4 linked regions of the Homo sapiens genome follow. The protein of the gene in region 1 binds, or shares a complex with, the protein of each later gene. Links are inferred from orthologs where the notes say so. Each region holds a gene or a part of one and is shown in the gene's direction. Other genes may lie near its edges. The genes, in order: VAMP2, SNAP25, CPLX1 and NAPA.

Region 1 (7,773 bases):
CTGATACCAGCACAATGCCTGGCATTGTAGAATGAGAGAGCCCTCACTTAACAAATGAGAAAAATGAGGCCCCAGGAGAAAGGCATTTGCTCCAGGACACCATGCAGAGTGGGAAAGCTGGGACTAGAACCCAAGTCTCCTGGCTGTTAGGCCAAATCAGTTGACTCAATTAAACAAATGTTTATTGAACACCTGCTACCTGCCAGGCTCTGGGCTTGGCATGTAATATGGAAGGTAATAAGATGTCAACCAGGTGCCGTGGCTCATGCCTGTAATCCCAGCACTTTGGGAGGCCGAGGCAGGTGGATCACCTGAGGTCAGGAGTCCGAGACCAGCCTGCCCAACATGGTGAAACCCTGTCTCTACTAAAAATACAAAAATCAGCTGGGCTTAATGGCAGGCGCCTGTAATCCCAGCTACTCAGGAGGCTGAGGCAGGAGAATTGTTTGAACCCAGGAGGCAGAAGATGGCACCACTGCACTCCAGCCTGGGGGACAGTGAGACTCCGTCTCAAAAATAATTAAATAAATAAATAAAAAGGAAGATGTGGGTTCTTGACAACCTCTCTATCTAGAGGAGAATTCCTCCCCCTTTCAAAACAACAGGAGCTTGTTAAACCCAGTGAATCTCTAATGAATGGAGGGTTGGAGAGTGAGGGACCGGAACCAGGAGTCCTTTCACGCACCCAATCCCAGGAGATTCTGATCTGCCTATGTCTTCTCCCACCCATACAGGGCTCTGGCATGTGGCACCCCCACCACCCACACTGCCCTGCTTCCCAGTGGCCAGGGGCCTGGGCCTGCTCTGCTGGCTGGTTCCCTGGTCGAACCAGTAAAAAGTGATCAGTGCTTCGCCAGCCCAACTAGGACTGTCCTTACAGAATACTGGGCACAAAGGTCCTGCCCAAACACATCCTTCCCGTTAGCAGTCTGTCTGCCTGCTATGCACTCACCATAGTTTATTATTCATTTGCCTGCCTCGTTCCTGGCACTGTGCTTGGTACTTGTTCAGAGAGAACTTCACATATTAAAAAGATACCACTTTATGTGTTTACATTATGCTTTAATACAAAAAGAGACACCTTCTTGACCGGGTGCATTGGCTCACGCCTGTAATCCCAACACTTCAGGAGGCCAAGGTCGGCAGATCACCTGAAGTCAGGAGTTTGAGACCAGCCTGGCCAACATGGCGTAACCCTGTCTCTACTAAAAACAGAAAAATTAGCAGAGGTTGTAGTGAGCCAAGCTTGTGCCACTGCACTCCAGCTTGGGTGACAGAGGGAGACTGCCTCAAAAAAAATAATTAAAAAGGCCGGGCACAGTGGCTCACACCTGTAATCCCAGAACTTCGGGAGGCCAAAGTGGGCAGATCACCTGAAGTCAGGAGTTTGAGACCAGCCTGGCCAACATGGCGCAACCCTGTCTTTACTAAAAATAGAAAAATTAGCCAGGCATGGTGGCGGACGCCTGTAATCCCAGGGACTCGGGAGCCTGAGGCAGGAGAATCTCTTGAACCCAGGAGGCAGAGGTTGCAGTGAGCCGAGATCACGCCACTGCACTGCAGCCCCGGCCGACTTCTAAACCAGTAATTGTCTGAAGAGAAAAAAAAATTACGAAATAAGGCCGGGCATGGTGGCTCACGCCTGTAATCCCAGCACTTTGGGAGGCCACGGTGGGTGGGTCACCTGAGGTCAGGAGTTCGAGACCAGCCTGGCCAACATGGTGAAATCCCGTCTCTACTAAAAGTACAAAACGATTAGCCGGGCGTGGTGGTGCACTCCTGTAATCCCAGCCACTTGGGAGTCTGAGGCAGGAGAATCACTTGAACCCGGGAGGTGGAGGTTGCAGTGAGCCGAGATCGCACCATTGCACTCCAGCCTGGGCAAGAAGAGCGAAACTCCATCTTAAATATAAATAAATAAATAATAATAAAAATAAAAAATAAAAGAAAGCGTTTATGAAAGTGTGGTCTCGGCCAGGCGCGGTGGCTCAAGCCTGTAATCTCAGCACTTCGGAAGGCCAAGGCGGGCGGATCACGGGGTCAGGAGATCAAGACCACCCTGGCTAACACGGTGAAACCCTGTCTCTACTAAAAATACAAAAAATTAGCCGGGCCGGGTGGTGGGCGCCTGTAGTCCCAGCTACTCGGGAGGCTGAGGGAGGAGAATGGCGTGAACCTGGGAGGCGGAGTTTGCAGTGAGCAGAGATCGCGCCATTGCACTCCAGCCTGGGTGACAGACAGAGACTCTGTCTCAAAAAAGAAAAAAAAAGAAAAAAAAAAGAAAAAGAAAGTGTGGTCTCTGTTGCCTACATCACCATCACCTTGAGTCCTACATCCTTTGAATGAGTCTTGGGGGTGTGCCCTAGAAAATCATTGGCCAATTCCCGAAGCCAGTACATGTAGAAGCCAAATCTGAGTTATGCAAATACATTATTTTTCTATTGTTCAACTTACCTCTATTTGGGTCTCCATTCTACCTGCCTGCAGAAAACATTCTCTCAGTCACTTCCAGGTGAACTCCGTCATCCCACTCCTTCTCCCACCTCCACCATTGATCTAAATTTGGGGAGTTCCTCTGAGCCACAGCCTAGGTGGGGTGGGGTGGGAAGGGGCTGCTGGATGAGAGTCCTCTTTCTGAGATGAATCCTCCTGGGCCCTTCATCTCCGTGGGTCACACATGCCCTCATTTCTACTCTGCTGCTGCCGTCCCCACGATCCAATAGCAATAGCACGACCCCTGGCCTTGACCGTGTATCTGGGGCTCTGTCCCTTCCACATCACCCCCAAACCAGCATCAAATGTCTTGTCTGGCTCTGCACTAGGCTCCCCTCAGTTAGTGCAGGGTGTCCAACTGGGGGCGGAAGGGCTTCCTGTGCCTGCCTCTTCCAATCCTCCATGTCTTATTTATACCCTGACAGACACTGAGGGTTTTGAACTTAAAAGGCTGGAATTTGGCATCTTTGTTCTCTGACTAGAAAGAGGAATCATTTGAAGACCAAAAAGCAGGAGCCAGCATCTCACAGCATGATCTGAGACCCCCGTGGAAGCTGCTCTTTTCTTTCTCATCACATAGGCTGAGCCACCCGGGACTGTCAGTGCACAAGGACCAGGGACGCGGCTGCTCCTCTGAGGGGGAGGAAGCCAAGAGTATCTTCTCTTAGATTGGGCTGAGTTCCCACACCCAGCACACACATTCCCTGCTCACTCACCTCCCACAGACAGCTGGGAAATGACACCTCTGGTGACAGAGCCACTCTCCGGGCTTCTGTGGGGAGCGGGTGGGGCACTGCAGTGGGGGAGGATCTCACACCCGGAGGCCCTGGGAAGCCAGGGTGGGGGAGGGAGGAAGCTGGTTCCTGTTTGTCTTAGAGATCAAGGCCATCAGCCTCCCTGCACCTTCCAGGGATGTAGTAAGCACCCCCACCCCAGGGCCAAAGGGCCTCGCCTAAAATGCCTCCTGCACCCTTGAGGCTTGCTTTGACCCCCTGCACTCCACCAGAGCGACAGCTCCCCTGGTCCCATCTTCTCTGACAAGCTGGGTGGGAGTGTATACAGCTGCTGGGTGTGCTTAGAGGGCCTAATGGAGACCAGCCAGGGATAATCTCCTATGTTATCCACATCAAGCCATTTAACAAATATGGATTTAGTACCTACATATGCAATGTATTTGGGGTCCAGAGAGAGGAGGGCAACGGTCCAAGGTCACACCTGCGAGGCGAATACGCATGTAAAGCAGCACCTTGTAACCTGTGCCCACTGTGCCTACTACTAAAGAAAAAAAAATGAGAGAAAAAGAAAAAAGGCTTTTTTTTTTTTTTTGGCCCAGGCCCTGTGCCTGGGACCAAAGCCTGAGCCCTTTCCTGCAGTCGGGTCGCTGACCTAAGCCTGGGGCAAAGCTAGGTCTTGGCCAGTCAGCAGCCACCACGTGAAGCAGCCCCTGCCCCCATCACCCCCGGCAGCCTTGTGCCCTCCTCCTCGGGGTCCTCAGCTCACCCCACCTCAGTCGGGCCTGCTCCAGCGGTTAAGTACCCCTAGTCTGAACCTTAATCGTGAGGCGGGGCAGCCCCCTCCCCACACCCTGTAGACACTCCCCCGTCCTCCGCCCCCTGGACTTGTTTGGGCGGGAAGAGCCTGCCTCATCTTTTCTTCCTACCCTCCTACCCAGTGGCCAGGGACCCCAGGCTTCCTCTGAGACATCCACCAGCGGTGATGGGTTGGGACCAATCTCCCCCACTCCTCTCCACCCTAGCAGTAAGGTCCCCGCTCTCGATACTGCCCCAGCACCTGCACTGGCCCTCTCTGATTTCCCAACTCCAGCCCATTCCAAGTGCTGAAGGCGGGTCGCTAGGTGCTGGGACCTGGGCGCGGGGCAAGACCTTGGGCTGTGTGGGGTGCAGGCTGGTTTACTGGGTTCACGATTGAGGGAGTGGTCTGGGGGTTAGGTGTAGGGCCAGGCTGCGTTGTGCTCTAAGGGGCAGGCGGCAGGCGGTTTGGGGGGGCTGTGGTCAGACAGGGTGGGGTGGCGGTGGGTTTGGGGAAGCCGCAGCAGCCCGCCTTGGGGTCCCGCGAGTGCCGAGGGAGCTGCCGGGGCATGGTGGCGCGGGGCCCGTGGTCCTGCCCGGCACGACCCCCGCCCCGCAGCGCCCCGCAGCGCCCCGCCCCCGCGGCCCCGCTCGCGACGCGTCTCCCGCGGCGCCCCGCCCCCGCCCGCAGTGCCCGGATGCGGGTGACGCGCGGCCGCCATCTTTCCGTCCCGGGCAGCCAGCGCCAGTCGGAGCCAGCGCGAGCCGCCGCCGCCATCACTGCCGCTGCCAAGTCCTCCACCCGCTGCCCCCGCCATGTGAGTCGGCCGCCCGCCACCCTCACCGCGCTTCCCTGCGCCGGCCGCCGCCCTTGGCAACCGGCCGTCGGGAGTGCCCGGGGTCTCTCCTGCGTTCCCCGCGCCCCGGGGCCAGGCCCAAGCCGGTGACTGCGCGCGGGCGGCCGAGGAGCCCCGCGTCCCGGGCTGGCCGGCTCGGGCGATGGCCGCGGGAAGGAGCGGACCCAGTGTCCTCCTGCCCCTCCCCGCCCCTGTCACCGCGGCCGCCTGTCTTTTCGGGTCGACCCGGATCGCATCTGTGAGGTCGCCCTCAGTTGACAGGCGGGGAAACTGAGGCCGGGGGGGCCTCGCTCAAGGTCACGCAGCTCATCGGCGGCAGGGCTGGACCGAGACCAGGGCTTACATCGGGTGGCCTTCCTCCCGAAAAGGAGGACTGGAGGGACGAGGATGGACAGGTGGATGGGCGGAGCCCTGGCTGCGGGGCCGGGAGGCTGCAGGCCCTGGGTCTTAATCCGTCCCTGCTCCTCAGGTCTGCTACCGCTGCCACGGCCCCCCCTGCTGCCCCGGCTGGGGAGGGTGGTCCCCCTGCACCCCCTCCAAACCTCACCAGTAACAGGAGACTGCAGCAGACCCAGGCCCAGGTGGATGAGGTGAGTGTGGGGGGAGTCAAAAGCAGTAGGAGGGACCCTGGGGGTTGGCGTATAGGTGTAGGGGCCCATGTTGGTTTGGGAGTGATGACAGTTCACGCCTGTGGGTTTGCGGACAAAGATACCATGCCCCATCCCTGTCTCCCTGTCAGCACGCACTTGGAAGGGCGCTGGGGGTGTTAATCAGCTTTGCTAGCCTGGGGTGTGCCAGCCTGGGCAGGTGTGCTCTGGTGATGGACAGAGCGCCTGAGGTTCCATAGAGGGAGGGTGTTGCTATGACATCTGAGATGTCACCAGCATGCCCCTGATGTGTGCTCCTTGCATGTCCCCAGGTGTGCTAGGCATGTTCTGTGTGTCCTTGGCATGTTAACCTGGCAGTATCAGGGTGCATGTTCCATGTGTGGCACGGTGGGCACATGTTTGAGGATTGCCCTCACTGAGGTGGGCCTTGGCACACCCCCCTGCCTCGTGGGCCCTTCTCCCAGGTGGTGGACATCATGAGGGTGAACGTGGACAAGGTCCTGGAGCGAGACCAGAAGCTGTCGGAGCTGGACGACCGTGCAGATGCACTCCAGGCGGGGGCCTCCCAGTTTGAAACAAGCGCAGCCAAGCTCAAGCGCAAATACTGGTGGAAAAACCTCAAGGTAAGGGTGGGGACAGGAAGGAGGACAGGTGGGTGAATGGGGTATCATAGTTTGTCTTACTGATCCTCGCCTCTCACCCCCAGATGATGATCATCTTGGGAGTGATTTGCGCCATCATCCTCATCATCATCATAGGTGAGTAGGGTGAGAATGGCCGGGGCCCTTTCCCTGGAGAGGTTTCCCCAGTGGATTCTAGGTTTTGAAGGTCATTAATCTAGTTTTTACTCTTCAGCCAAAAACACATATAGCTGCTAATGGCAATTCTGATTCATCTAGAGCCAAAAACTTTGATGTTATTTAGCCTGCATTTTGCCTAGTTCTTGGCAGTCTTGTTAACATTTGGAAATAGGAAAGCTGGTGTATCCATTGAGGACCCTTTAGGCCTAAGAGCCCAGTCTGAGAACCCTGGAATTGAGGAGTGGGAGAAAGGAAAGGACCAGGGGCTTGAGACATGACCAGGAAGCCAACCACCCCATTATTTGAGAGCTTGCGGTCTCAGAGGCTCAGAGGATTAGGGTCTGTGGCTTCAAGGCCATACCATGGAGCGGAAGGGACCTCAGAACCTACCTGTCTAGCCCCTTGCTTTGTAGATGGAAAAACTGAGTCCAAGAGAGGGTGTCAGCCAGCTGGGGAGTGGGGAGGATTGGAGCAGGGCCAGGCCTGACACACTGCTTTCTTGTTCTCTCTCTTTCTCTCCCCTCTCCCTCTTCCTCATCTTCTTCCCCTCTCTCCACAGTTTACTTCAGCACTTAAATCCCCGAGGAGTCTGCCCTGCCTAGAGAAGGGCCTCTCCCCCAACCCTCAGCCGTTCCTCCACCTCTCAGCCATATCTTTCAGCCCCCACTCCCCTGGATCCGTGTGTGTGTGTGTCCGTGTGTGTGTCCCCCTGTAAATAGCCAGCTGTTATTTATACATATATAATATTATATATATTTGGTCTGTTTGTAGTTTTATTACTAGATGATTTTTCCGGTTGTCCTTAACACCCCTTCCTGAGGTTCCCTTCACCCCTCTCTCTTGCCTTCCTTCCCTTTCCCTTTCTTCCTGACTAGCCCCAAGTCCCTTCATTTGCATCTGCTATGCAATAGTCCCTCTCCTTTCCTTCTTCTTCCCTCAGATTTAGCTGATCCTTCCTCCCACCCTGGCCTTCCTTTCCTCTTTCCTCCTCACTCTCCCCGTCATGCTCCCTCTGCCCCGCCCTCAAAAAAAAAAAAAAAAAAAAAAAAACAACAGCACCTGTCCAGGCTTCCTTAGGTACATCTTCTTTGTATCCATTGGGAGGCTCTGAGACTGGCCCCACTTGGTCCTAAGAATCCCAAGGTCTTTGGGAGCGTCCAGCATGTTAATTAGCGTATCATTACATACTGCTATCCCTTTCCATTTCTTTTTGTTCCATCACTCTTCTCTCAACCTGTGTTTCTTTTTTTACTGAGGAGTTAGTCCCCATTAGTTCTTGTATCACATTTTCATTTGCACGACATTACTCGCAGGTGGTGGGGAGCCTGGGCTTTTGGGGAACCAGGCTGCTCTGGTCCCCAGCATTGCCTCCTCCTAGCCCCTCTAGTCCAGTTTGCCTCCCTTACCCTCATTTTCCAAACCTCTTGTACCCTCCTCTCCCTCCCCCAGCTGGTATGTAAGTGTCTTGAAGTTCAGTATGTTATGA
Region 2 (7,112 bases), on another chromosome or scaffold:
TGAATAAGTTCATATAGATGAAAAAAACAAGGCCCAGTATGATTGATACATATCTAATTAATAGCTAATGAAAAAAATGGCAATCCTCCATATTAAAGCCAAGCTACATGTCATTTCTTAGAGAAATAAAGTTAAAGTCTCATCAAAATGATAGATTTTATTTAGCCAATACTTCATAGTGCTAGACATGACACTCAGTGCTTCATAATTTCCTTGTGTATTTGCTATAATTATTGTCTCCATTTTACCTATGAGATAATTGAGATACAAAGAGGTTACAGAACTAATATGATTCCTAAAAGATTTACTCAAGGAATACTGTGATCCCTAACAAATAGCCTTTTTGAAGTGTACTAATTTGGACTACCATTTTCTCTGCCTCTCTGTTCCTAATTGTCACAGGTTCTTCCTCCCTACTGGACCACAGGCGTGTCTCAGCATTGGGAAGGGTCCTAGGATGCATTGTAAAAGAAAGTCTGTAATTTTGGTGCATCAAGGAACAAAAGTGTGGAAACATCCAGCCTGTGGCTGCTGGACACTCCCCTTCTTCCTTCTCACCATACTGTCTGTAATAAAGAATAAAGTGTTATTTAATATTCTGAGTGTACAGTCCTATTTTTTCTTAACCTGGCAAACCAGAAACAGCAACTAATATTCCTGGTTCTCTTTTTACCTTTCACAAGATCTATATCTACCTTAGAGGCTTCAGGGAACAAGAACAGCCTGGATAGTTTAAACCTAGAGTTAAACTACTCGAGGCATTTTAAGGTACCGCTACTTCACTATATATAAATGGGGTGGGGGGCTGGATTAAGGGCTAGAAGAATATATGAAGAGAAAGTGGCAAGCAAACCACTTGGAAAGCAAACCAAGGAATCAAAACAGTTGCTCTATCAAACTGAATATTCTTGCGCAGAACTGAATATTCTTTGCCCTCACAGTGTTTTGAAACATTGTCATAGGGTGCCAGGCATGTCCCAAAGGAGGACCCTGGAGAGAGGGCTTCTGAGCTGGGCTATCTCTAAACTGCTTCCAAGTTGACTTTGGAAAGATCACATGGGATTTTAGAAAAGTTATTATTATTATGACTTATAAAATTGTAGTTATTGAGTCAACTATGAATCTTGCACCTTACCTTGGAGATACAAGCTAAATACCTTGGACCTAGAGCTACTGCAAACCAGAATACTTTGGGGCATAATGTACCAAAAAAGCTTTCAGAGGCTTGAATTATCACAGTGTAAATATCCATCTAGCAGAGCAGGTAATTTTCTCGTTACTCATCCTAAGCATTAGATACTCTGTGTGTTAGTTCTTTGCAGAAATAACCCATAGCAGCTGAACCATTTTGGAACAAATTTTCCATCACCTTCCTTCCCTGTGTGGTTCAGGCCTTTGCAAACCCTGAGTATCATGAATCTGCTGGTTCTCTACTGGCAAAGATGATGACGTTTTCTTGTTTGTTTTTGTTTTGCTTTAATCATGCCGTGAGAAAATCCTAAGGGAAAAAAATCTCATTATCCTATTCAAAATACATTTAGGGTTATCTGGTCATCCCTAGCAGATTTTTATGTACCCAATGTTTATGTATCTCAAATTACACTCTGTTACCTTTCCCAGAGCAAGATGAAGAACCTCTAAGAACCTCTCAAACAGCATCATTTTCACAACAAGCACTAGCAATGGAAAACATTGTCACCACCACCAGCTAATCTTGTAGGGTCCATGGTATTTTCTGTAATGCCTTGAAACAGTCTGCCTCTCTCTTCTTGTCTGTCATTTTTATAGATGTCAGTGTGGGGCATCAGCAGTTGAAAACTCAGAATACCAAGCCAGTCCTTCCCTGTGACTGCTACATAGCTTTTGCCTGCAGGATAAGCCTCCATCACTGACGTAGTTGCTTTTTAACTTCTTTTTTTTTTTTAACTTGGAAAATCCCCCACCTCCTCCATTCCTTCACAAAACTTTCTGCCTGAATGATTTCTAGTCTGAGGGCCATACACACATTTTTTTTTCTCCCTCTGCAGGTTTTTTTTTCTCTTCAAACTTCCGCATGCTGCCTTTTTTTAAAGTGTCACACTTTGGAAAAAATTCTGACTACAAAGGATTTTGCAGTACATTGCATTCAAACCCCTTTCCCCCTATTCCAACTTGCTTTATAATGAAAGTAAGAGCCATACTCAAGAGACTTTTATTGGCAATTAAGTATCTAAGGACTTTGCAGATTTTCTTCTTTATTGTATGGCAATCTTAAATGTTTAATGAATATTTAAGTAAACAAATTTCAGCAACATGCCTTTTTTAGGAATTTGGCTTTAATTAACATCCAAACACTGTTAATTATTATGGCAAAAACATCAATACGTCAAAAAAAAGCCTTCAGGCCAGGGAATCTTTAAGAAACAATTATGTCTACTAATTTCGATTAAAGGTATCCTTTATTAAATTCTTAACAACCCGTCTCTTTCTAAACGCAGCGCCTTCACAACTCTTCTTCCCTTCCCCCTACCCCGCTTCCCTCCCTCCGCAATGGAGCGCAATCAAAGGCCGTATTATTGCCTAAGCTTGGCTCTCAGGCCAGCTAGGGATGTGTGTGTGTGTGTGTGTGTGTGTGTGTGTGTGTGTGTGGTGGGGCGGGGGTGGGGGGCGAGGGTGCAAGGGGAGAGGTTGTACGCCGCTTTTCCGAACCCAGCTCTAAATGGTTTCTCCTAAGCGAGACAAGGATTTTCCATAGCCTAAAAGAGGCCATCAAGTTTTAACATTGCGAGGCACGACTTCTAATCGCATCCTTCCCGGAAAAGTACAAACAGTTCCTCAGACGAGGTCCCCCACCTCCCACGCGCTCCCCAGCCCTCCCTCCCTGCGGAGAGCCCCGCGACAGCCTCCCCAACACCTGTGAATCATCCGGGAGGCTGCCACCGCCGAGCGATCCGCGCACCACCCCCTTCCCGGGCCCGGGCACGGCCAGGGAGGACAGTTAGGGTTGTTGCTTTATAATTATCACTTTTAATCTCTAATACGACCAGCACAAGTAGCCTTTGTCTCCCCGCCCTGATTTGAGCATCCGAGGGCCCCCCGAGGCAGCCTGCACGGGTACCCCGGGGTTTGCGCACTGAGTGAACCCCCAGATTCGGCCGTGTCCCAGCCGTCCTTGCTCTGAATCCCCCACCTCCTCCCGGCCGTTTGGACGGTTCCCTCGGGGCGTCTGTGCCTCCGTGGGGTACCCCTAAGACACCCAGCATGAAACCCCAGCACCGACTGCAAATTCCACCGAAAGCAGAGTCATCCGTTTTTGCCCTCGGCAAACAACTCAACTTCAAGCCTCGAGTCCTTGCAAACCCACGCTGGCTGGGCTAACTCCGCTTCCCTTCTCCTTCCCCCGACTCCTGCAACAGCTCAGAGAGCCTGGCTCTGACGTAGTTCAAAATAACGTGCGCCAGCCTCGCTGCCCGGCTGACCACAGCAACGAGAGCCACAAGCCCTCGACGCTGCTTCGATAACATGAAGCAATCACTCATAAAAATAGCAACCCACGTAGCCTGGCCATATATGGAGCTGGCGAGGGTGGACGGGGATGCCCCTACGGACCCTCTTCGGAGAAAACAAATCGCCGCTGAAATTTCCCCCACCCCTCCCATCACTACCTTTTACCCCTCCTCTGCCTTCCCCTCTCCTTAGATGACTCAACCACAGATTCCACTGAAAGGGGGTGGGGGTGGGGGTGGGGGGGAATATATACACATACACACAAATTATACATATATTATACATGTATTATAAAATATACACACACATACATATATACATACACACACATATACACATATGTACACACACACGCACACACACCAAAGAACATCAGGAATGCAGTTGCGGGATGAACGCGTTTGCCCAAGACCGAGTGTTAAAATGGAGTCATAAGAGTCGCCCCGTGCGGGTGTTTATAGAAGGTGAAAACACGCAGGTTTGCAGGCCAGCGCACTGGGAACCGAGTCAAGCGCGCCGCAGCCCGGGCCCCGCCCCCGCCCCCGCCGTGCCCCGCCCCCACTTCCTCCCGCCCCTCGCTGGGCGGCTATTAAAAGCTGCTGACGTCAAAACGGACGGCCATCTTTGATGAGGGCAGAGCTCACGTTGCATTGAAGACGAAACCTCGGGGAGGTCAGGCGCTGTCTTTCCTTCCCTCCCTGCTCGGCGGCTCCACCACAGTTGCAACCTGCAGAGGCCCGGAGAACACAACCCTCCCGAGAAGCCCAGGTAAGAACCCCCCTCCCCAGGTCGTGGCTCTGGCTCGGGATGGCTGCATACCCAGAAGGGACAGCAGCTGGGCAGTCCGAGTGGGCTTGGGTAAATACAAGTATTGGTGCACTTAGGGTGCGGTATTCCGTGTGTGCACGTCTGGTGGGGGCTTTATAAAGTGTTTTCGAGGTGAGCTGCTGGGGAAAAGGGAAACGGGAGCCCTGCAAATGGAGCGACGGGGAGGAAGAGCGAGGGTACGTACCGAATAATAACTTACTCTTTTGAAACAGTAGTGGGACCCCCTCTTTCTTCCATTTTGCGATGCAGTTTTCAGAGATATTTAGGCTGTTGAGTTTTCCTCCCCTGTCGTTCTAACCCTATTATTATGACTGTTGTCGTTAGGGTGCTATTATCCAGGGAAGAATTAAGGGGGAGACAGGGTGTGGGTGCTGGGGAGGCGAAAGGAGAAAGGGGGAGTTCCCGCCCCGGGCAAGCTGAGCTGCTGCAGCGACAGCAGCCTCCATGCCCCGCGGACTTGATTTATGCCGCCTGCTCCACGTCAACTGCAGGCTGGCGGGAGGCGGGCGGGTCGTGCCGGGTGGGAGGGCTCTGCGGAGGGCTGGCGCGGGTGGGCTGGCTTCGGGGACTGCGGCGGCCCGCGCTCAGCACCCTGGATAGCAACACCGAGGGCTCGCGCGGGCGCCCTCGACCTTTCAGCACCGGGGACAGCGGTCCGGCCGCAGCGCCTCATCTGCCTGCGGCAGAAATGCCTGGCCGGGGCTGGATGTGCCAGGGCTGGAGACCAAATTGTCTCCCTGAGACCCCGGTCTTACGGAGACCCTTAATAGAGGAGTCATAGTAGCTTAAAAGAAAACAAGAAAGAAATAAATCTTCCTCACAGAGACTCCTTTGCAGACAATTTCCTGTTCCCCTCCTCACCTCCTGCATAGCTTCAACAAAATAGTCTACTTGTGGAAATCTTCTGTGTTGCCCTCTGACCCTTATTTTACGTAGAAAATAAATACATTTTTTAAAAAATATGGATTTATCCTCCAGCAGGGTATCAAGGTTTTTGTTTGGTTTTGTTTTTTAACACAGAGTAGATCTGTCTACAGATCTTGGGTGAGCATAAGTACTGTATATATGAAGAAGCCAATGCTATCTGTTTATAGGGATGATACATCTCTCTCTATGTTTCCATTTGATAAAAATGTGAGATTAGCTGAACTAAGCAGAATCAACTTTAAGAATGAATCACTCTTCCTTTTCCTTCTTCCCCCATCCTTGCAATCAGGCATGAATACAAGCATTCATCCACAAAAACACATATCTGAGAAATTTTACTGGTCCTGTACTGAATAGATTTAACCTCTTTGGCCACGGTTTCAGAGTTACTGGAAGTATTTGCTATCAGCACTGGTTATCGCAGGCTGATAGCTTTAGATTTTGACAATATTAAGACTGGCCTTCCTCAGGAGAATCCAAGTGTGTCCTTCAGGGTAATGCAGGTAAAGAACCATGGTGTTAAACTAGAACTTAACTCTGACCTAAAGGTCTACTGCAATTTCTCTTATGGCACTGCGGGATTTTGCTGAGGTGGTAATAACTACTTTAACCATTTTCTACTCTGAGGCTTGGAGCATCTGAGAGAGCAAAAGTCATCAGGGGTATTTCTCTCTGTTTGATGTAGATAAAACTGGCATAAAAATGACCAGAGTCAAAATTATGCCATTTGAGTCATTAGCAAAAAAGAGTAACAGCGTCATATGTAATAATCTATACAATGCATTAAAGAAACGCTATCATGATCCCCTTAAAAGACCCCAAATGAGAACTTGGATTGTGTTTAGATAGTCATACCTCCTATCATCTGTATGCTACAGACACTAAAATTCCCTGTCCATATACAGAAGGTAATTTCATTCGCTGCTATTTAATTATTTCCTAGTGTTTTTTCTTTTTATAGATGACCATGTGTTTCCATGTATGTATATGTTGATCTGTTATTTTGCATGGATGTAAAATTATTTGGGTGGACATTTATATATGAGTATGTAAACGTATAAAAGAAGTTTATAACTTTGCAATCTGCAGACAAAAATAAACAACTGTGTTTTAGTAGTGGAGGAGAGAAAATATGGGCAGGAATCTTTAAAAATGCTTTAACTTCATGCTGCATGTCCAGACAGCTGTCTGCGTAGTTGCGTCAAATGAAAAGCCTAATGCTGCCGGAATTACGTGCTTGGACATTAGTAATTACTGCTGGGTTTGTTTGCTAGTGGAAGACTGGGGAGGAGCGGGGGAAGTAGAGGACCGCAGTGAAGATGGCAAAGGGCACAGAGCTGAGAGGAAGAAGCAATGTGCACAATTAGAAAGCTAATTTTAGAATAGCTTACTGAGAAATTTAAAAAATATATCATTGAACCATGAATTTAACATTTATATCATTGACAAGCTTCCAGGGAAAAAAAATCGAGAAATTTCCCATTTTAAGTTAGAATTTTTAAAATCCAGGGCAATGCGGTGAGAAGAGGCAGGAGCAGATGGACATAGGATGAGCCAGGAGTCATTCACACAGACCCTCTGATGCCTGTTTGTTCATCGGCATTTACTGCATTACCACCTCAGTGTTCAAATTACAGAACAATTTACAATCCTCTTAACCTCTTCATGGCAAAATCTCCCAAGAATTCACAATTTTATTTTTACTTTGTTAAACACGCACAACCACACATGCACAAACACAATGCAAACTACCCGTTAATTAGCTTGTCTAAAGATATTCCCAAGCTCTAAATGTTAACCCTTGAGTGAGGGTTATCAGCTGAAAGACATGTTTCTGCCAGTGACACCTAGAAGCTGCGTAAGCAGTCAGC
Region 3 (7,241 bases), on another chromosome or scaffold:
GGGTTTGTCCACCCCAAGCCCACTCCCCACGGGCGGCTCTTTTGTTGCCCTGGGTCCCTGGTGGATCAGGGTCCCCGGCTGAAGGAGGCCAGATCCACACCCCACACTCAGCGCAGGGCTGGAGCCGGTGGCTCCCCCTGAAGCTGGAGGGCCCTGGCCTGGCGGGTGGGCTGCCCGGGACCTGGCCTTGCCCAGCTCAGAGGCTCCCTCCAGCCAGGGGTGAGTGCCGCTGACCCGGCTACCTGGTGCTGCTGACTGCATGGTTGGGACCATGCTGGGCCGCAAGAGATCAGCTCAGAGCGGGCCCCATGTGTGCCCTGGGGCACCATGAGATCTGGGCACCGTGTGACCGGGCAGCCGTGGATCCCAGGACCCCAGGGCAGGGCCTGGGGCACAAGCATTCGCTCAGCTGCGGCAGTACCTCTGCTCTGCTCCCAGGGGCCCACTAGGCTGACCTCCCAGGCGCTGGCTTCCCCCGGCTAGATGCTGGACCTCTCTCACCCAGTGGAGGAGGGGAACGGGTTCAGGGCGCTTCCCAGGCGAGGACACCCTCCACTCAGCCCAGGTCCTGCCCCAGCTCTGGCAAACGGCAAGGGTCTACATCTTGCTTTGCTCACGCTTTTCACGTGTTGTTACTTTTGGAATATCAAAATCCAGCAGGAAAATGACAGCGTGGATGGTGTCGGCACTCAGACTGAATCACTCAGCACATGTAACTATTAAGTTTGTGTTTGAAGGTTCTGGGTGGGTGCTGTGGGCCGGATCCACACATGCGGTGTGGCAGAGCGCTGCCCTCCTGCTGGGCCCATGGGGGACATGGCCCCCTGGCCACACCCCACGCCAGGACTGAAGGCCAACCCCAGGAAACCCTGACAGTGCTTCCCAGACCCTTTCCTGGCCCAAGGCAAGGAGGATGCCTGGCACCCAGGAGGGCTATGGGCAGATGGGACCCAGAAGATGGGAGCAGGGTGGCAGTGGAGGCCTTGGCAGGGGCTTCCAGAGAGGCTAGAGCTGGAGGTTGCAGCAGGGCAGCTGCCTCCTTTCCCTGCTGTCTGGAGTGACCCCGCAGGGTCTCAAACCCAGTGCCACATGGTCCTCACACAGTCCTGCTTTGTGCTCCTGGGGTCCCTGGCCTCACTGGGGCTGGGGATGGAGCATCTGAGGAGCAGAGGGCTGGCTGGGCCGGGGGTACCATCCATGTCCAACCGGCTGGCACAGGCCCCACAGCCAGGGCTCGGCCCAGCCAAGCACTCACACTTCTCCAAGCTGACCTCTGGGGGAGCCCTCGTTGGAGCTCCATCCTGCTCCTCCCGGACTTGCTCCACACCCCACCTCCTCCTTCTCCCAACATCCGCCTGGACGGGGTGGCCTCCAACTCTTCCCCGGCCTGCAAAATGTTTTCCCTGCCTGGATCTTCAACCTGGCCTTCAACCTGCTGGCCCCTTTCTCACTCAGCTCCTGCCCCTTTCCAGCCGGCTGGAGGTCTGCGGGGCTTCTTCTCCAGGGCTCAGGGCCTCCTCTGGGCACTCGAAGGGCCAACCGCACCTGCCCTGGTGTGGCCAAGTGGCCCGTGGGGGTTGGCAGAGGCCTTTTGCCGCGTCACCACCTTCTGCCACTGGAACGGAGCCTGGGTGGCTCCTGGCCAGCAGCCTGTGACTCCCATCCCAGCTGGGCAGCCCTGGCCTGGCTCACACACCCTGAGTGGGCACCACCCTGAAGCCCTCCAGCAGATGCCCACTTTCCCTTCCCCTGGCCCAGCTCACACACCCTGAGTGGGCACCACCCTCAACTCCTCCAGCAGATGCCCACTTTCCCTTCCCTAGGCCACTTGTCACTCTGACCTGGGGCTGTCACCAACCTTGTCTATTTCCCCCAAGTTGTGGCTGGGCCCCCCCACCCCCAGGTTAGGGCCTAGACAAGTGTGAGAGCTGAGAAGCAGTCACTGCATGTGTGGCTGGATGTAACAAGTAACAACAGGGACAGGCAGAGACAGAGAGAGACGGACACAGAGAGACAGAGACAGACACAGAGACAGAGAGATACAGCGACAGAGAAAGAAAAGACAGAAAGACAGAGACAGAGATAGAAAGAGACAGAGAGACAAAAAGACACAGAGACAGATACAGTGACAGAGAAAGACAGAGACAGAAAGATAGAGACAGAGAGACGGGCAGAAAGACACAGTGACAGAGAGATACAGCGACGGAGAAAGAGACAGAGAGAGAGGCAGAGGAAGACAGGGCAGAACGTGAGGGCTGGCAGAGGGTCTCTGTCCTCTGTGCCCCAGGCCCCAGCTCCAGGTGTGCTTGGAGCTCAGGCTGGCCTGGGTTGTAGAACGGGGAGGGGTCAGCCTAGGAGTCCAGTGCTTCTGCTCGGAAGAACGGGCACCTCCCTGCACTCCTGTGCAGACTGTCCCAAAGGCACCAGCATATCCCTTGCATGCAGCTTGTGGAGGTGGCAGGGTCAGTCATGAGCCTGGCTCTGGGCTCAGGGGGTCACCCCTGGGGTCCTCTCTGGGGTTACTGTCCGGGTTAGCTGTTGGGTTATCCACCCAGTTAGGGATGGAGAGAGAAAGCACCAGGGCCGAGAAGTGACCTCTTTCTTGGACCCGAACATCTCACCCTTGCTGTCCCCTCCCAGGTCCTGAGGAGACTAGAGGAGCAGATGGAGCAGAGCAGGCTGGGGCTCAGGCCGGGCCCCCAGGCATGTGTCCTGCCTCCTGTCCCTGGGCCCAACGTTCTGAGCCCACTTGGCTCAGATCCCGGGAGAGAGGAAGGGACGGTGCTGGGGGTGCCCATGGCTTCCAGCCAGGGAGGCTGAAGAGACCCCAATCCTAGGGCATGGGTCCCCCTCTGGGAGGTTGCCTGTGAACCCCCAGGCCCACGGGACCCTCATGGCTGTCTCAGGGAGCCCCCATGGGCTTGGCCCTGGTGCCTTCACCCTTCCCTCTCCCCCAGCGCTCCCTTCCTCTGCGAAGGGTCCCCTGCCAAGTCAGCAGAAGAGTGGGGACGGGGGCAGAGGCGCTGGGGCCAAGGCTGGGAGTCCAGGCCTCTGAGTCCTCCTGAGCTCAGGCTAAACACGGGGCACCGGAGGGGATGGGGCTGAGGGCGGGGGAGGGGCCGCATCTTCCCTGCGCCAGGGGAGTCCCCAGGACTCAGCAGGGAGGGGACAGTGACAAGTTAGTGCGGCGGCCACCGGCAGCGGCCCCCCTCCCCCCTCCCCACCCCCACCCCGCCAGGAGCACAGGGCAGCTCTAGGGTCGCGGTGCGCCCCATCCCTCCCGCCGCCTGGCTCCCGACACTGCACAGCGCGAACCGCAGGGCCGACCTTGCGGCGACCCCGCTCTCCCGCAGTGCCGCGTCCGCTGCAGAGGAAATCCCGGGGGCCAGGGGAGGGAGCGGTGGGGTCTCTGGCCTTCGTCCCGGTAAAGGAAACAGCGACTCCGTTACACCGAAAGTGAGCCCGGGCCGGCCTGCGGGTCTCTGGCTGCGAGGGGCTTGCGTGGGTTTTCAGGGGTCTGGGGGCCCCCTTCTCCCGCCCTGCGATACGGGGAGGTCGGGGCAGAGGGGTCGGGGCGGCGGGCGGCGCTCAGGGACACGGTCACCGGAGAATGGGGGCGGCAGCGACTCCCAACCCCTGGCCCCTCCGCTCGGGAGGCAGCGACTTCTCCGCCCGAGGGTTTTGCACCCACCGGCCCCGCGCGGACCCTGTAGGGAGCAGGCCCGCACCGTCGGGCTGGGGGCGGGGGGGCAGAGCCGGGGGCGCCCAGATCAGGGGCGGGCGGGGGTCGCAGGCGCCCGCCGGGGGAAGGTCGAGCCCGGGCCGGGTTGGAGGGAGGCGGGGGCGCGTCACTCGGGTCCACCCCCGCCCCCGCCCCCGGGTCCACCCCCGCCCCCGCCCCGGGTCCACCCCCCGCCCCCGCCCCCGCCCCCCGCCCCCGCCCCCGGGTCCACCCCCGCCCCCGCCCCGGGTCCACCCCCCGCCCCCGCCCCGGGTCCGCCCCCCGCCCCCGCCCCCCGCCCCCGCCCCCGGGTCCACCCCCCGCCCCCGCCCCGGGTCCACCCCCCGCCCCCCGCCCCCGGGTCCGCCTCCGCCCCCGCCCCCGGGTCCACCCCCGCCCCCGCCCGGCGCCCGCGGCCCCGCCCCTCGGCGCTCCCCTCCCCGTGCTCGTCACGCTCGGACGCGGGCGGGGGGCGGGGAGCGCCTGCGAGTGACGCGCCCTCCTCGCGGTGCCCTTCAGCCGCCGCCGCAGCTCACCGGGCGCCACATGGACCCAGCCGGCCCGAGCGCGCCCCGCCGCTGACCGCCCGCGCCCCGGGAAGGTAACCGCGCCCCGAGCGCAGCGCGCGCCCGGCCTCCGCTCCCCGGGTCTCCCCTCCCGGCCCCGGCGTCTCCTCCCCGGCCCCCGCTTCTCCCCGCTTCTCCCGCCGGCCCCGGTTTCTCCTTCCCGGCCCCCCTTCTCCCCGCGGCCCCGGCTTCGCCCAGCTCCTCCCCCCGGCCTCCGCTCCCCGGGTCTCTCCTCCCCGGCTCCGGCTTCTCCCCCCGGCTCCGGCCTCTCCCTCCGGCCCCCGTTTCTCCCCCCGACCCCGGCTTCTCCCCGCAGCCCCCGTTTCTCTCCCGGGCTCCGCGCGCGCGGGGTCCGGGGCGGGCGCTGTCCACTGCCGCGGTGCTGAAGCGGCCCCCGCGGTCCCGGCCCGCGCCCGGCCTCCTCCTCGCTTCTTCCTGTCTCGAGGCTCCCCCTCTCCTCCCTCGCCCTCTTTCTTTCCTCTCCTGGCGCGCTCCCGCCTGAGGGCCGCTCGCCCGCCCGCAAAGCCGAGGGGTGCGGGTGCGGCGGGGCCGGAGCCCTGCGGGTCTGCGGGGCCCGGCCGTGCCCTCCTTCCCCGCGCCGCGGGAGCCAGGGGAGAAGTTTGGAGGAGAATCGGCGCTGCGGCAAAGCCTCCGAGGGGCGCTCCCCGCCCGCCGCCCTCCCAGTCCCCGCGCGAGTCTCCTTCCTCTGCGGAGGGCGAGGGGTGAACCGTCAAACAGTGTCTCTCCAGGGACCTGGGGTTCCCCGATAGGAGAGACCCCGCAAAACCGGGGGGCTCACTGCGGCTGCTGTGATTTCAGAAAGCGGCTTCCCAAGAGGGGACCAGAGCGCCCCACCCCACCCCATGCACGCCCCCGGGGCGGGGGTGCTCTGTCCCCGTCCCCACGTGTTTCCTGAAGGCTGAGCCCCCTGAAGTTTCTCCCCAACCCCGATCTCTTCTACGCGGGCCATGTGGGGGGCACACTGACTGCAGTGCCGTCAGGGATAGGGTCACCCAAGCCTCCCTGGTCAGAAGCCACAGGAGCCCGCCCTGAAGGGTACCCGCTCAAAGACCCACCCCCAACCCTTCTCCACGGCCCTGGGCTCGGGACCACCGCGGAGGCGCCGCTCCAGACACTGAGCTGCAGAGCGGAGCAGTCACCTTCAAACGCCCCCTGGGCCCCGCCCCTGCTTCCGCAGCCTGGCGCCAGGCGCCTCTGAGCGATGCCCCCTAAGCCATCAGCAGCCCTCCCTGCAGAGGCTTCAGACACCCCAGGAGCTGGGGAGACCATTTTCAGGTCCTCTGGGGTCCTGGTTTGGGTGTGGGGACAGAAGCCCCTCACGAAGGACTTCCCAGGCAGCCGCTCCAGGTGGGGGAGGGTCCAGCCCACAAGGTATTGCGGGTAAGGAATGATGGTCTCTGGGGAAGGCCAGGCAGGGGCCTGCTTAGGGTGACCTGTGACCACTTCACTCTCCCCCAGGAAGAACACTCGCTCCCGGCCATACTTGCGTGTGAGTTCTGACCCCTGGAGGAGCCACTGTGGAAGCAGAGCAATCGCCATGGAGTTTGTGATGAAGCAGGCTCTAGGAGGTAGGAAGCGGGAGGTGGGGTGGGGAGGGGCTGAGGGGACATGGAGAGACCACCACAGCAGCTGCTCCTCATCTGGCCCACCGCAGCAGCGCCCCTGCAGCCACACGGCCACCCACGCAGCCCTGCACAGGAGCCTGGGGCAGAGGAGCAAGGACCGTGCCCAGCAGCGCCCCCAGCCCGGCCCTTTTCGAGGCCCCGAGCCAGAACTGGTGTTCCTGGCGGGACAGGGGCTGCCCTGTAAGCTCACTCTGCCCCACTGCTGTGGTCGGGGCAGAGCCCATGGACCATGCTGATGCACGTCCTGGGGGAGGGTGCACACTCTGGCGTAGGCTTTACAGGGCCAATTCTAACTGGCCAGGCTGGGCAGCCCCCAAGGGGGCTTCCTTCCAGATGAGGAGAGCCAAGCGGTGGGAGAGCAGGATGCAGGTGGCAGCCTCAGGGACAGGCGTGGGGACAGAGCTGGCCTGTGCATCTGGCGAGGACCCTGTGGGTTTCACTTGGGTGAGGCAGCGCCATCCTCAGGGACCAGGGCTTGCTGGTTACGGGAGCGAAGGAAAAGGCCCGAAACAGCTTGTGTGTCTCGACTGCCTCCCAGGCGGGACGTGCAGCCTTTTTTGTGTGTACTGGGGTGGGGCCAGGCCCCCTTCCAACCTGCTGTCTGCTATTTGAAAGGAACCTCGTCCCCACTTGACCCAAGGCTGTCATTGTGGCCAGAGACCATGTCAAGAGCAGTGGCTGGGTTCCTAGACCAGGAGGTGGGCAGGGCCTGGGCCATGCTGGTACAGACGTGTCCCGGCAGAGCTGATGGGTCAACTCAGGCCTCGGGGCTGTCGTGGCGAGTCTCAGTTTTGCCCAGAGCCGTCCATCCTGTGTTCCCCCAGCACCAGTGCCCAGAACTCCTGTGAGGGGAACCTGTGGCCGGTGCCCGATTCTACCACTAGAGACGTCTTGCTTGGGTGGCCTCCACGGGGGAGCACCCTCACCTGATGCCATTCACACCTTGGAGTGAGTCAGGCCTCCTGGGAGCATTTCTGCAGTGGGGGAGCTGGCCGGGTTCGAGGGGCCAGGGACAAGGGTGTACAGAGGGCAGGCGCCGCTTCCCCCAGGGCAGGAGCTGCCTGCCTGGCTGTCTCCCGGAGGGTGGCTGTGCTTCCACTCAACACAAATTAAATGAAAAGATATTGAGCCTGTCCTGGGGCCACATCCCTGAGATTTCGTGGTCAAGGGTAAGAGTCAGGTTGAGTCTAATTATAATGGCTGCGTCACCGGGCTGTGATTCAGGGACAAGCCTGCATCTGCGCTGGGAGGGACGCACGTTCCACCCAGGGAGTCCCAGGCTGTTACGGATAATTAATTAGTTGGCTA
Region 4 (6,852 bases), on another chromosome or scaffold:
AGCACTTTGGAAGTCCAAGGTGGGCGGATCACTTGAGGTCAGGAGCTCGAGACCAGCCTGGCCAACATGGTGAAACCCCATCTCTACTAAAAATATAAAATACAAAATTAGCCAGGTGTGGTGGTACATGACTGTAATCCCAGCTACTTGGGTGGCTAAGGCACAAGAATTGCTTGAATCCAGAGGCAGAGGTTGCAGTGAGCAGAGATCGTGCCACTGCACTCCAGCCTGGGCAACAGAGCAAGACTCCATGTCAAAATAAATAAATAAATAGAAATAAAATGTAAATTAAGCACTTGGGAGGGTGCACCATAAGAACTGAATGGCTACTAGTTAACAAGCTCTCATGTGATTGCTAATATTGTTTGGATCCCATCCTAAATAAATCCAATGAACTCTGGAAATGGAAAAAAATTCCCTGGTTGAAAAGGCTGAGGGGTTATATTATCTGTTGCTGCATGACAAATTACCCTGAAATGGAACAGCTTAAACAGAAGCTTTTACATAGTGTTGCTTTGACAGACATGGAACCAAAACCGCTTGTGGTAATCCAGGCTCACCCCCACCTGCTCTGTGGTCAGGACACAGTGGCAACCACAAGTAGGTGGTCCAGGCAAGTCTATTCATGTATGAAGAGAGTTGGGGGAAGGCTTCTTATGCCTTGCTCGGCTCAGCCAACCCCCTAGATAATAGCGGTTTCTCAAACTGTGGTCCCGGGATTATCTGCATCCTAATTTTACTTTTTTTTTTTTTTGAGATGAGACAGGGTCTCACTCTGTTGTCCCGGTTGGAGTGCAGTGGCACAGTCATAGCTCACTGCAGCCTCAAACTCCTGGGGTCAAACAATCCTCCCACCTCAGCCTCCCAAGGAGTAATTAAAATTTTTTTAATTTTGTGGAGATAGGATCTTGCTTTTTGCCTAGGTTGGTCCTTAACTCCTAGGCTCAAGCGGTCCTCCCGCCTTGGTCTCCCAGAGTGTTGGGATTACAGGCATGAACCACCAGGTCTGGCTGCATCCTAATTATATAGGGTTCTGTTTTTTAAAAATGCAGATTCCTGTGACCCACCACAGACTCAGAATTGGAACCATTGTGGGTACGGCCTTGGAAACTGTTTTATTTAAAGAAGATTTTTAGGATAGTTTTAGATTTGTAGAAAAACTGCAATGACAGCAAAAAAAAATTCCCACATACCCCAGTTTCCCCTATGATTAACATCTTATATTAGAATGGTACATTTATTACCACGTATGAACCAGTATGGCACAATATTATTAACTAAACTTCATAGTTTATTTAGATTTCCTTAGTGTTTTTGTTTGTTTTGAGATGGAGTCTCACTCTGTCACCCAGGCTGTAGCACAGTGGCACAATCTCGGCTCACCACAACCTCCACCTCCTGGGTTCAAGCAATTCTGCTTCAGCTTCCTGAGTAGCTGGGACTATAGGCGCCCTCCACCAGGCCCAGCTAATGTTTGTATTTTTAGTAGAGACAGTGTTTCTCCATGTTAGCCAGGCTGGTCTGGAACTCCTGACCTCAGGTGATCCACCCGCCTCAGCCTCTCAAAGTGGTGGGATTACAGGTATGAGCCACCGCACCCGGCCAATTTCCTTGGTTTTTTAACTCAATGCCCTTCTGTTCCAGGATCCCACCGAAGGTAAGACATTACATTTAGCAGTCACGTCTCCTTGGCTGTGATGGTTTCTCAGGCTTTCCTTGTTTTGATGACTTGACAGTGTTATTTGTTTGAGACGGAGTCTCCCTCTTGTCCCCCAGGCTGGAGTGCAGTGAGGCAATCTCCGCTCACTGCAACCTCCACCTCCAGGGTACAAGTGATCCTCCTGCCTCAGCCTCCCAAGTAGCTGTGATTACAGGCATGCACCACCTCACCGGGCTAAGTTTTTTGTATTTTCAGTAGCGACGGGGTTTCCCCATGTTGGACAGGCTGGTCTCAAACTCCTGGCCTCAAGTGATCCTCCTGCCTTGGCCTCCCAAAGTACCAGGACTACAGATGTGACACACTGCACCCACCAACAGTGTTGAGGAGTACTGGGCAAGTATTTTGGAGGATGTGGCTCAACTGGAATTTGTCTAGTGTTTTTTTCATGATTAGATTGAAAGATCCCAGAAGTAAAGAGCCATTTTAATCACATGACTTATCAATGTTGAGGTTAACCTCAATCACCTAGATGTCAATGTCAGGTTTCTCCACTGTAAATTTAGGCTTTTTCTCCCCTTTCTTGTACCCTCTTCTTTGAAAGGAAGTCACTATGCACAGTCCATACTTACAGAATGGGGAGGTATCCTTCACCTTCTTGAGAGCAGAGTATCTACGCAGATTATTTGGAATTCTTCTGCACAAACTATTTGTCTATTCTCCCCCCTTTATTTATTTGTTCTATATTCATCTATATGACCATAGGCTCATGGATACTTTATGTTTGGGATTATAATCCAATACTACTTTATTTTGATGCTCAAATTGTTCCAGCTTTGGCCATTGGGAGTTCTTTCAGTTGGCTCCTTTGGCATACCCCCTAATTTTGTGTGTGAGCACACGTGTGGAATACTTCCTTCCTTTCTGGCACTACAAAGTTATACTGAGGTGAGCTATGATTGTGCTGCTGCACTCCAGCCTGGGCGACAGACCGAGACCCTGTCTCCAAAACCAACAACCCAAAGAGTGAGACCCTGTCTCAGAAACCAGCAACTCAATTTTCTGGGACAGCAGGAGGTGTGTTTGAGCCTAAACTTTTTTTTTTAGAGACAGAGTCTTGCTATGTTGCCCAAGGCGGGACTTGAACTAGACTCAAACTCCTGGGCCCAAGCGATCCTCTCGCCTCCCGAGTAGCTGGGATTATAGGCACGAGACACCGCGCCCATCTTCGAATCTGAATTTTTTTTTAACACGCTCTCTTCAGCTATTTTTTTTTTTTTTCTGAGACTAAGTCTCACTCTGTCGCCCAGGCTGGAGTGCAGTGGCACGATCTCGGCCCGTTGCAACCTCCACCTCCCCGGTTCAAGCGATTCTCCTCTCTCAGCCTCCTCAGTAGCTGGGATTACAGGAGTGTGCCACCACACCCGGTTAATATTTGTATTTTAGTAGAGCGGGGTTTCGCCATGTTGGCCGGGCTGGTCTCAAACTCATGACCTCAAGTGATCCGCCCGCCTCGGCCTCCCAAAGTGCTGGGATTACAGGCGTAAGCCACCGTGCCCGGCCCTCTTCAGCTATTTTTTATGAAACCAGAGTTAGAGAACCTCTTAAGTTTTTGTTTGCAGTCTCTCTTCACCGGTCTCCCCAAAGCAGTTCTAGTACTGGCCGACAGAGGGAGCAAGAAAAAGCAGAACGGTTTCCTTTTCCCACAAACGCCTTTCCAAGTGAAGAAACCGGCGAGACCAGCCGCGGGGGCGGGACTAAGTTCTGCGCAGAACTGTCAAACCCGGGCGTGGGCCCCGAGCTGTCACGTGAGTGTCTGCGGTCAGCTGACTGTGCCAGAGTTCCGCGGGGAGGGCGAGTGGGGGACCCCCCGCCCCAGCGCGAGCCGAGGGCTCCTGCTGATTGGTGGAGGAGGATCCAGCAGCAACACCGTGGGGCGGGGCCTCGGCGGGGGGTACTGCCATTGCCTTCCACAGGGTCACGTGGGAGGTGAGGTACAGAGCGCTGGGGAGAGAGTGGAGCGCCGTTCGCCGGTATGTGCGCATGCGTTGAGGTCTCTTGACGCCGATTGGGGGGTCACGAGTCACGGGCGGCGTGCGGCGGCTGGTGGGGGCGTGTCCGGCGGAGCGGGCGCGGCGTTACGAGGCCGCTGGTTGGCCAGCGCTAGTCACGTGGTTCCTGGCCGCAAGCGACGCGCGCCGGTGCGACGTCAACGCAGCCGGGCGAGTTTTACCGATCTGTGTTCCGCGGCCCGGCCGCGGCTGAGTCTTCCCAGGGTCAGGGTCAGGCGCTTTGCTGAGTCCCTTTGTGGCCGCCATGGACAATTCCGGGAAGGAAGCGGAGGCGATGGCGCTGTTGGCCGAGGCGGAGCGCAAAGTGAAGAACTCGCAGTCCTTCTTCTCTGGCCTCTTTGGGTGAGAACCGGGCTGAGGGGTCGGCCGGGACCTAGGCTGAGAGGACGAAGGAGTCACGCTCGGAGGTGGCGGGTTAGGGCACGCAGAGCTCGGGCCGAGGGGACGGAGAGGAACCTGCAATAAGGTGACATGGCCTGAGGCGGCAGAGGGGACGCAGGCTGAGGGCCAAGAGCCTGGGCCGGGGCAACACGGTTTGAGGAGAGACGGTCTGACATGGCGGAAGGGATTTGGGCTGAGGACACACGGACCGAGGCGACACTATCTTGAGGCGAGGAAGGGGACCCAGGCCGAAGACAGGCCAGCGGGCGGGGGAGAACCTGGACCGAGGGAGTACGTCCTGAAGCCTTGGAGGGGACCGGCCTGGGGGGACGGAGGGAGTCCGGGAGAGAAGCCAGGTCCAGAGGCTTTTCGGAGCTCTAGGGGAGTCTGTTTGAAGGCTCTCAGGCGGCAGTGATGGGGCCTGGGGCTGAGGACGCCTGCCCGAGGGACTGACCTTTTCAACCCCTGGAGCAGTGGATTTGCGTGGGCCCTGGGCGGTGAGGGTGAAGGCTGAAGGGGGCTGACACCAGGCAGAGGGGCTCAGGGCTAGATGATCCTAGGAGCGGTGAGCCGCGTCTGAAGTGTGGGGGGTGCATGGGGTGAGTACGGCCCTGGTTAGCAGTGACTAGTTTAAGGACAGCTGAACGGAGGAACCCGGGATGATGGAGTCAAGACTGTGGAGGTCTCAGCACTTTGGGAGGCCGAGGTGGGCAGATTATCTGAGGCGGGGAGTTCGAGACCAGCCTGGACAACATGGTGAAACCCCGTCTCTACTAAAAATACAAAAGTTATCTGGGCCTGGTGGCGGGTACCTGTAATCCCAGCTACTCGGGAGGCTGGGGCAGGAGAATCACTTGAACCCGGAGGTAGAGGTTGCAGTGAGCCGAGATCGAGCCACTGCACTACAGCCTGGGGGACAGAGCGAGACTCTGTCTCAAAAAAAAAAAAAAAAAAAAAGAAAGAAAGAAAGAAAAAAGCCTGAGGAGGCCTGGGTTGAGGCTGGAGACTCCTGGGTGGGGGAATGCGTGGTGGTGGCTTGGCCAAGGAGATGGAGGGATAACAGGGAGAGACAGGGGGACTGAGAGAACCAAAACGGGGGATCAAATTCCTGCTGTGTGATCCTCGAGTAATAGGGATGACAGAGACATGCTGAGAAGAGGGATGGGAAAAGGCCTGGGAGACAGAACTAACACATATGACGTGGCATAAAACTCACGTTAGCTCCTAAAAGCTGACACGACCATCCTGTGATAAATTGTAGTGGCTTAGAAGTGCCAAGAGCCCAAGTAGCTCTGCCACTTACTTCATGACTTTGGGTAAATTGTTTAGTCTCCCTGCTAAAGGAGATCACAAATCAAACCTACCTCCCATTTGCTATGAGTGTTAGAATTGAGCCTGGCGTGGAGTTACATCTCTGAGAGTGTTAGCTGTTGTTAATGTGACTTCCAGAAGGAAACAGGTTCGGAGCGTGCAGAGAGCTGATGGGGGTTCAAGGTGGACGCCCGAGCGGAGAGGTCTGGGAGGGGTCAGGAGAGGGAGAGACTGAGAAACATGAGTGTGCTAAGAGGAGCTGAAAGGGAACAGAAAAGGGATCCACGAAGACTTAGTAGGGTTGAGAGGAGCATGAGGCTCTGGGCAGAGGAAGGAGAAGGGAGTTTGGCAGGGGGCGGTGGTGTGGGAGGTGGTGGGATCTGTGCTGATGGGACGACCCGAAAGGGTCAAGGGGAGGTTGTGGAAACTGAGAGGAGACCTGGGAAAGGACTAGTGGGCTTGTAGAGAGAACAGTGTGTGGTGGCCACTCAGAAGCAGAGCCTGGGGACGGTGGTGGGACTGGGAACATCTGCAGAAGGCTGGAGAAGGGGGTTTGGGAGGAGGGCCTGGGGATGGGAAGAGACTGTGGTAGGAGCCTGGCAGAGGCTGGTAAGACACGAAGGAGAGGGATCTTTACAAGAGAGGAAGGAACAGGAAAAGGGCTCTAGGCCACGCCCCTTGTTTGAGGTTGGATAATGTTTAGCAAAATAACTTGAAGAACATGATGGCGAATTGCCTGGTGTGGAGAAACATCCGGGGCTGATGGACTGGATTGATTAGGTGAAAAATGTTTTATTTTAGAGGCTGCGAGGAGAGAGAGGGTGTGTGTGTGTTTCTTTTTCTTCACAAGGGGAGAAGTTCAAGTGCTGTGTTTGGGGGTGGGGCCACGAGCTGGGTTTTTGGTGATAGTTTTCCTGGGTGGCTCTGGGTGTCTGGTCCCTTTGGCCCAGGGATTAGTGGGCTGTTGGACTGTGTGCTTGGAGGGAGCAGCTAAGTCAGCCCCAAGGCATTTGCTACCTGATTGGGAAGGCAGGATGAACAGCAAACACCAATAAAGTGGAATTACCTACTGTAAGGAGGGGCTCGATGATGTCATTCCTGTGACTGTCTGAGCTCAGAGGAAGCAGCGTGAACCAGGGGGAGGCTCTTGGTGAGGAGTGAGCTGGGCCCCAAGGAATCCCAGGACTTGCTGGGGAGTGGGGCCGGGGAGGGTGCTCTAGGCAGCAGGGATGGTGCAACAGAGATCTACCGTGACGGGAGGTTCTGCCTGGAAAGACAGGGAACTGAGATCCAGAGGGATCAGAAATGGCTTCCTGGGGGAGAGGCCCCAACCCTGGGGGGATGAACATGAGTTCTGGGGTGCTCTCTGGCAGGGAGCAGCACTCCAGGCAAGGATTATTATGGAGCATGCCTTAGGAAGATGGAACACAG

What was found.
Region 2: the proteins of VAMP2 (region 1) and SNAP25 are in contact, whole or in part, in a crystal structure (PDB 1SFC), measured with the Rattus norvegicus proteins. The link is inferred for Homo sapiens from one-to-one orthologs. Residues at the interface, in NP_036795.1 of Rattus norvegicus: Asn25, Thr27, Ser28, Asn29, Arg30, Arg31, Leu32, Thr35, Gln38, Val39, Glu41, Val42, Ile45, Met46, Asn49, Lys52, Val53, Glu55, Arg56, Lys59, Leu60, Glu62, Leu63, Arg66, Ala69, Leu70, Gly73, Ala74, Gln76, Phe77; in NP_112253.1 of Rattus norvegicus: Gly131, Gly132, Phe133, Ile134, Arg135, Arg136, Asn139, Leu150, Glu151, Ser154, Ile157, Gly158, Leu160, Arg161, Ala164, Leu165, Met167, Gly168, Ile171, Asp172, Gln174, Asn175, Ile178, Asp179, Ile181, Met182, Ala185, Asp186, Asn188, Lys189.
Region 3: the proteins of VAMP2 (region 1) and CPLX1 are in contact, whole or in part, in a crystal structure (PDB 1KIL), measured with the Rattus norvegicus proteins. The link is inferred for Homo sapiens from one-to-one orthologs. Residues at the interface, in NP_036795.1 of Rattus norvegicus: Arg47, Val50, Asp51, Leu54, Asp57, Gln58, Ser61, Asp64, Asp65, Asp68, Ala69, Gln76; in NP_074055.1 of Rattus norvegicus: Leu41, Arg48, Tyr52, Glu56, Arg59, Glu60, Met62, Arg63, Ile66, Arg67, Tyr70, Gly71, Ile72.
Region 4: the proteins of VAMP2 (region 1) and NAPA are in contact, whole or in part, in a cryo-EM structure (PDB 3J97), measured with the Rattus norvegicus proteins. The link is inferred for Homo sapiens from one-to-one orthologs. Residues at the interface, in NP_036795.1 of Rattus norvegicus: Gln36, Ala37, Asp40, Glu41, Val43, Arg47, Val50, Asp51, Leu54, Glu55, Gln58, Lys59, Arg66; in NP_542152.1 of Rattus norvegicus: Arg116, Thr118, Lys122, Ser157, Ser159, Ser160, Lys163, Leu197, Tyr200, Ser201, Lys203, Arg239, Ser268, Ile269, Arg271.

What each region holds. Positions count from the first base shown.
Region 1 is NC_000017.11:8,159,945-8,167,717, reverse strand, and holds the start of VAMP2 (vesicle-associated membrane protein 2), read left to right. Parts: upstream 1-4,769; 5' UTR 4,770-4,838; coding exon 4,839-4,840; intron 4,841-4,841; exon of another isoform or gene 4,842-5,266; coding exon of another isoform or gene 5,267-5,274; intron 5,275-5,348; coding exon 5,349-5,469; intron 5,470-5,951; coding exon 5,952-6,110; intron 6,111-6,193; coding exon 6,194-6,245; intron 6,246-6,846; coding exon 6,847-6,863; 3' UTR 6,864-7,773. UniProt on the Homo sapiens protein: Involved in the targeting and/or fusion of transport vesicles to their target membrane. Major SNARE protein of synaptic vesicles which mediates fusion of synaptic vesicles to release neurotransmitters.
Region 2 is NC_000020.11:10,214,724-10,221,835, forward strand, and holds the start of SNAP25 (synaptosomal-associated protein 25), read left to right. Parts: upstream 1-4,106; 5' UTR 4,107-4,254; exon of another isoform or gene 4,255-4,490; intron 4,491-4,513; exon of another isoform or gene 4,514-4,783; intron 4,784-7,112.
Region 3 is NC_000004.12:823,127-830,367, reverse strand, and holds the start of CPLX1 (complexin-1), read left to right. Parts: upstream 1-4,238; 5' UTR 4,239-4,322; intron 4,323-5,766; 5' UTR 5,767-5,845; coding exon 5,846-5,876; intron 5,877-7,241. UniProt on the Homo sapiens protein: Positively regulates a late step in exocytosis of various cytoplasmic vesicles, such as synaptic vesicles and other secretory vesicles.
Region 4 is NC_000019.10:47,512,062-47,518,913, reverse strand, and holds the start of NAPA (alpha-soluble NSF attachment protein), read left to right. Parts: upstream 1-3,850; 5' UTR 3,851-3,973; coding exon 3,974-4,071; intron 4,072-6,130; exon of another isoform or gene 6,131-6,201; intron 6,202-6,852. UniProt on the Homo sapiens protein: Required for vesicular transport between the endoplasmic reticulum and the Golgi apparatus. Together with GNA12 promotes CDH5 localization to plasma membrane.